Linked DNA regions of Homo sapiens. The protein of the gene in region 2 purifies or fractionates together with the protein of the main gene of each other region. This does not show direct contact. Each region holds a gene or a part of one and is shown on either strand. Other genes may lie near its edges.

Region 1 (3,814 bases), on a different chromosome or scaffold from region 2:
GCGCCACCGTACTCCAGCCTGGGAGACAAAGCGAGACTCCTTAAAAAAAAAAAATCAGGATAAACCGTTAACACCATATGTGGAGGAGCAAGGGATACGACCAGTGACCAGGACCAACCAGGCCAGGGTGCAGGCGTCTGTGAAGAGGCCATCTCCACGCTGGAGACACCTGCCTCCCGGAGGGGACTGAGGCCTTACCCCCTCCTCAGCAACACCTGAGCCAGAACCTGCTCTATTCCCTTTTTGGAGCTGAGGAAACTGAAGCACACAGACACCCGGCTGGGCCCCATACTCCACTGCTGCTCCTTCGGACACGCTGGCCTCAGGATGTGTCCCAGCTTGCGGCGTCTCACACCTCTGTCCCAGTCATCTGAGGACCCCCACGGGCACCCACCTGCGAGGTGAGGAAGCGCTTGAGTGCATTCCCTGGCTGCAGGTCCATGCCTCGCACCACGGCCCCCACAATGTAGGGCCGCACATCCCGGACCTCGGGGCTCACTCTGACTGTCAGAGGTACGGGGTTTTCAGAGACGTGCAGGACCCTGAGCAGCAGCCGGCCGGCATCTCCCACGTCCTGCTCCTCCCCATCACCACCTTCCCGCCTCTGCTTCCTCTCCCTCCTCTTCCTCCGGCTCTCTTCCTTCTCCGAGCCCTCGGCACGGCCCTTGCCCTTCCCGCCACCACGGCCTCCGACGCGCAGGTACTCCAGGATGGATCTGGTCTGGCAGCCGCTGACCATCTTCTCCAGGCGCTTGTCCCTCAGCTTGTTCCCACGGAAATTGATCTCCTTGAGCTTGGGGCAGTCCGCAAGCTCTGCAGGGATCTCGCTCAGCTGGTTGTTCGAGAGGTCCAACGTCTGCAAAGAGAAACATGGACGCGTCAGACGCCCGGACTCTGGGAAGAGAGTCCAAGGTCATGCTCGAGAGGCAGGGAGACCACTCATCACTCACAAGAGCCACCACTGGCCTGTCTGTGGGGACGCGTCCCTGGGGAGCCACAAGTCATTCACCTTTGAGTCACTTCCCCAGCTCTGCACCCCACATCAAAGGCACTATCCGAGGAGCCTCTCCGAGGAGAAGGCGTCAGCCACGGTTAACAGTGATCTCTGCAAAAGCTTCTGACTCAAACATGTCACCCTCTTTAACAACCACAGCAGCCCTGCAGCTCAATCATCACGTTAGAGAACAGAAAGGTGACAAGAGACAGGGGATGTCTGGGTGTGAAACGTGACCTCATGTCGGGACCTAGCCAGGACTGCTCAGGTGAGAAGCAGGTTCCCCAAAGTGGTGTTATTTTTTTTAATTAAATGAGCTAAAAAAAAAATACAGCAAAATCTCTAAGAGCATTCTTCTTCATAATGAAGTGCAAAGTTGCCCGCAGTGACACACAGAGTGCTCTCAGGGTTCACGCAGGAAGGAAAGGGGAAAGCCGACTTCAACGGCGATGGGTTCTCAGCCTTCGTCTGACCCAGGACAGGTGCATCGGGCCCACCACCGTGTGCCACAAAGATGCCCAGGAAGCCCCGTGGCCCACGGGAAAGCGTTTTCTATGACCGTGACTGATCAGACTTTGGCAAAACGTGCAGGTGACCTCACTGAAAGGATGGAAGGGGTACAGTGGCACCTGATGCACTCTTAGGATGTCTTTCCCAGGGTCTGGGCAGCGCAGGGAACGTGCGTGTGAGGGCAGCCACTTCCATGACGTGAGGCGGCCGCTGCAGGTTCAGGCAAAAGGGGCCCATCCGCCTCCACTCTGCTCTTTCCTGGCTTGGTACCCAGGCCCCACAGCCTTGCCTGGGTGGTGGGGCAGGCACTGCGAGCAAACCCTTCTGTCCCAGCTTCCTCTAGGGCTGGAGGAAGACCCTGCTCAGGATGCAAAGCCTGACCCTCGGGGATCTCTGGCAGCCTCGGTGCCGGCTCTGCCCCCAGAGAGGAGGCAACAGCATGTGGGCCCCCTGGAAGCCAGCACTCGCCCTTGGTCAGTGTGGCTGGTGAGTCCTAGTTACACTGGGTGTGGAGGAGACAGGTAGGGCTGGACTTGATAGACTCTGAACAGAGTTGGGGATGGGCTGATTACTCAGAGGACACCTCCTGCTTCGCCTGGAATGGATGGCAGGGGTGATGGAATTTCTCAAGCCCCAAGTTGTGAAGGAAATGAAAAAAGGAACCTGCTGGAATCCTCCGGCTCAAGCAATCAAGCTGCTCAGACACGGGTAAGGGCAGCATGGCTCAGAAATGGGATGGCGCTCAGAAGCGGGAAGGGTGGCACGGCTCAGACATGGGAGGGTGCACTGGATGAGTTCCCTCAGGGAGAACAGAGACCCAGGGAGGAAGCGACAACTTAACAGTCAAGCAGGAACAGCATGTGTAAAAGAAATAAAAGGGCTCGCGTGCCCTCTGGGAGAGAATGGGGCAGTCTAAGCAGCAGTGACGCCTGCTGGGGAAGAACACAAGGCAGGGGCTGAGACCAAGCCCAGCTGCTGGGCACTACCTGAGCCACGCGTCCATCGGATCTAACAGAACTGCCACAATTCTGTGCTTCTCAGCACAGGGTGGGCTGGGCTGGGATAGACTTGTTGGACTGGTGGCTCCAGCCCAGACCTCCCTTCCGGCCCCACATGGGACGAGAGCCAATCTACTCCTGGAATCCAGGTGGCCTCACAAAGTACCAGGAGCCGTATCACCAATGCTGTCGCCAGCCTGCAGCACCAGGAACAGTGCGGCCGTGAGCTCAGCCTTCTAGAGCTCCTCACCTCCCTGTCAGAGCCCTGGCTCCAGCGTTAGAACCAGCCTGGGCCACCAGCCCAGGGCACAGCCTGCCTGGCAGAGGCCAAGGGAAGCTCTGAGGTTGGAAGCTCGGGGGCACAGGCATCTGAGGTTCTGCTCTGTGGGTTTCTGCGCTGCCCTAAGGGGCTTTGGTCAAAAAGCTTGAGAGTTCCCCTCAAGTGGAACCTCCTTTCTGCCTGCAAACACGCAGTGCGGCGTCTCCCTCCGCTGACAAAGAGCAAGTTCCTTCAGACCCAGGAGCAGCAGCAGAGGCGAAGGAGGCGGGCGGGGCCCCACCGGGGCGCCCAGAGCAGCCACAGCCAGTTCAGCCTGCAGCCTGCAGTGAGTCCCCGAAAGGATGATGGCGGGCACTCGGAGAAGGGTCTTCCTTCCAGGCAAAGACTGTCAGAGAAAGGGCATCTGAGCAGCTCAGGACCTGCCTGGAGGCTCTGTGGGGAGTCAGGGGACAGGAAGGGAAGCGGGGGAAGGAGAGCAAGAGGGAGGGCAAGAGAGTCACCATCTGGGTGGGGCGCAAAGCCGCACATGTTGGGGAGTCCTTGTCAGAAATGCAAGGCCCTGCTGACGAGGTCGCACGCTGGCCCCTCAGGCCAGCACTGGGCACCCAGTGGCGGCCTCAGCAGGAAATGAAGCCAGAGATTTCACACATGAAGGGTGGATGAGGGTGGCGTCAGTTTTCACTTGTGTGAGGGAGCAAGCAGGCGCGCCCGCAAGGATGTGAGGTGCACACTGGCTTTGGGGAGGATGAGTTACACAGGGGGTGGCTAGGGGTCCTCCTGACACCTGATGGGATGAAATGCCGTCACCTGTCACCCGGAGCTGACACTCTACTGCAGGAAACACAACCCTCGCAGTGGCTAAGCTGACGGCAGCAACGTGGGTCCTGACTCTGGCCTGGCATACCGGCTGCCTTCCGGGCCCATGGCTTTTGCAGGGGACCTGCTGCCGGGGAAGGATCCTAACTTCATGGTGGTGACAGGCTGACATAAACCAACCCAATAAGGAGCGCCAGCCCCTGAGTGAGCCCCACT
Region 2 (2,565 bases):
CTATGGCTTCTAATGCATTTCTCTTCTTCCTCCCTTGCTGCACCTGCAGATGCAGAAGGTAAGCCTTTAGCCAGCCACCGGGTTGGGCATTATGGAAGGGAGACAAGAGAGAACTGAGGAGGCCTTTCCAAGCAAGATAGGACCCCCAGCCATGGGGGCACACTTGGGACACCTGGGCTCAGGCCCAGCCCTATTGCCAAATCATGAACGTGCCCCTCTCTGAGCCTGAGGATCCCTGTGAGTTAATTGGGGGTGGCTTCCCTTGCCCAGGGAGACACAATCAGTATGACAGTATCTATGACCTGCAAAAATGAGCAATTTAGCATGTCAGTCATTTATACTTCATTAGTCCCATAGCAACCCTCCAAGAGGGCCCTTTTATGATCCCCATTTTACAATGGGGAAATTGAGGCACGGGGGGTTAATTTGCTCAGTCTGTTTGCTCACAGACTCAGCAGATGGCCAAGCTGGTACTTAGGCCAAGGCAGTCTGGCCCCAATGCCCATGCTGGGAATTGCTGGGGATCACAGTCCTCTGTGCCTCTCTCACCACAAAACTGGAACCTCACAAACTCCCTGCCACTAGGCAGGGCCTCCCCAGCCCCTACTGGCCTGCCCCACCTCCATTTGGACTGGCACATTTGGACTGGGCCATCACATTCCCCTCAGAACAGCCCTGATAAATGTACCGGTGCATGTGAGTACATATATGCATGTGCACGCATATGTGTGCGCCTGTGTGCACGTGTGGGTGGGTGTTTACTATCAAGAAGCAACAGACAGCCGTGAGCCTCACTCACCCCAACTAGGGGGTGGGAAGCCCAGGGGTGGGGCAGATGTTTGCTGTGAGCATTACTCAAGAGAGAGAAGATGACTTAATGGCTTGCATTTCAGCCACATCAAAAAGCCCTGCGCCAACGTTAAAATCACATCCCATTGCCACCAGCCCCATAAAGGGCTTCCCTGGACGTGCCCGATTTCCAAAGCCTAATCTTTGTAGTCACATCTCCACCTCTATCTGCCAGTGTTGGGGCCCCTCTGGGGCCCAGCAGCGCTAAGACAGGAGGAAGGCACGGGGCTGGGGGAGAAGGAACCCCTAGACCCTGCTCACCACTGCCCTTCGGCTTTTCAGCCACACCGGTGAGCCCCGCCATGTCCTACCTGAGTGAGTACATGCTGGCAGCTGCCACTCCTCCCACTGCTTAGAGCCTGCCCCTGCCACATGTCCCTCCACCGTGGCTACTCACTCAGCTCTCCGGGATGGGCAGATGGACAATGTGCCCTGAGGAGATTGCGGGGTGGGAGGGCAATGGCATTAGCGAGCGGGAAGGGGAGGGGAGGGGCATAAGCTGAACTCCTATGGGGGTCGTCGGGCGCCTCCCAGGGCCACTTGCTTAGCTCAGCCCTCTCTCCCTTTGTATCTGCAGCCAGCTACCAGCCTCCTCAAAACCCCTACTACTATGGTGAGTCCCTGGCTGCTCCTCGGGAAGGCTCAGGGGCCTGGGCACGTGCTCCTGCCTGTCTCGGAGTCGAGCCCATGGAGGCCAGAAGGCTGGGGGAGGCCCCAGGTATGATGAGAGGCCCCGGGAGTCAGCTCCTTCTCTAATGTGTCACCAGTGGACGGGGATCCCCACTTCATCATCCAAATTCCGGAGAAAGACGATGCCCTCTGCTTCAACATCGATGAAGCCCCAGGCACAGTGCTGCGCCTTATTCAGGATGCAGTCACAGGTGAGGCTTGTGGGCTAGGGCCGGGGCCAGGGGGCTCTTCCTGGGAGGGCTTGGGTCCCCCGAGGTAGGCACAGGGAACAGGTTCTCACTCTGCCCAGTAAGGCATCATCTTCACATGCAAAGAAACCCCTGGGGGTGGGGAGTGCCCAGGGCCACAGGCTTGCTCAGCCCCACATGCCAGTGCTATTGGGAGATGATTAGCGTGAATGGACCACCTGGGCCTAGGGTAGGACCCAGCCTGTGTCTGGGGAATAGCTTTTCTCTGAACAACACTCCCTGGCCCAGGCAAGTGGCAGACCCATAAGGTCCCAGCATGACCCAAACCTAGAGTGTCTAGGAACCAACAGGCTTGGGCTCTGAAGTCCTGGTCTCTCTTGTGGCCCCCGCTCTGCTGCCCCTCAGCCAGTCTGGTTGAAGAGGAAGGCACACCCCTAAAGGCAATCTGGACTCAGAAGTTCTCGCTGGTCTCTCTCCCTGCCCCATCCCTCTGGCAGGCCTCACAGTTAATGGGCAGATCACTGGCGACAAGAGAGGCAGCCCTGACTCCAAGACCAGAAAGACTTACTTTGGAAAACTGGGCATCGCCAATGCTCAGATGGACTTCCAGGTGGAGGTGACAACGGAGAAGATCACCCTGTGGAACAGGGCCGTGCCGAGCACTTTCAGCTGGCTGGACACAGTCACAGTCACGCAGGATGGGTAAGCTCCCCTACAAGGTCTCCAAGGTGGACTACAGGGTGAGAGTCTAAGGAGGCTCTTGAGGGATTTAGAAAAATCCCAGGACAGGAGATCCATGGGGGTCACAGGAAAGATCAGAGACCCCAGAATCCAGTCT

Evidence for each region.
Region 1: the proteins of ITIH3 (region 2) and LRRC47 purify together in Homo sapiens (affinity purification with mass spectrometry; one large-scale study listed by BioGRID and IntAct). This does not show direct contact.

What each region holds. Positions count from the first base shown.
Region 1 is NC_000001.11:3,786,455-3,790,268, forward strand, and holds part of LRRC47 (leucine-rich repeat-containing protein 47), read right to left. Parts: intron 857-3,814; coding exon 395-856; intron 1-394.
Region 2 is NC_000003.12:52,804,677-52,807,241, forward strand, and holds part of ITIH3 (inter-alpha-trypsin inhibitor heavy chain H3 isoform 4 preproprotein), read left to right. Parts: intron 1-49; coding exon 50-58; intron 59-585; coding exon of another isoform or gene 586-696; intron 697-1,131; coding exon 1,132-1,164; intron 1,165-1,426; coding exon 1,427-1,462; intron 1,463-1,616; coding exon 1,617-1,730; intron 1,731-2,224; coding exon 2,225-2,429; intron 2,430-2,565. UniProt on the Homo sapiens protein: May act as a carrier of hyaluronan in serum or as a binding protein between hyaluronan and other matrix protein, including those on cell surfaces in tissues to regulate the localization, synthesis and degradation of hyaluronan which are essential to cells undergoing biological processes.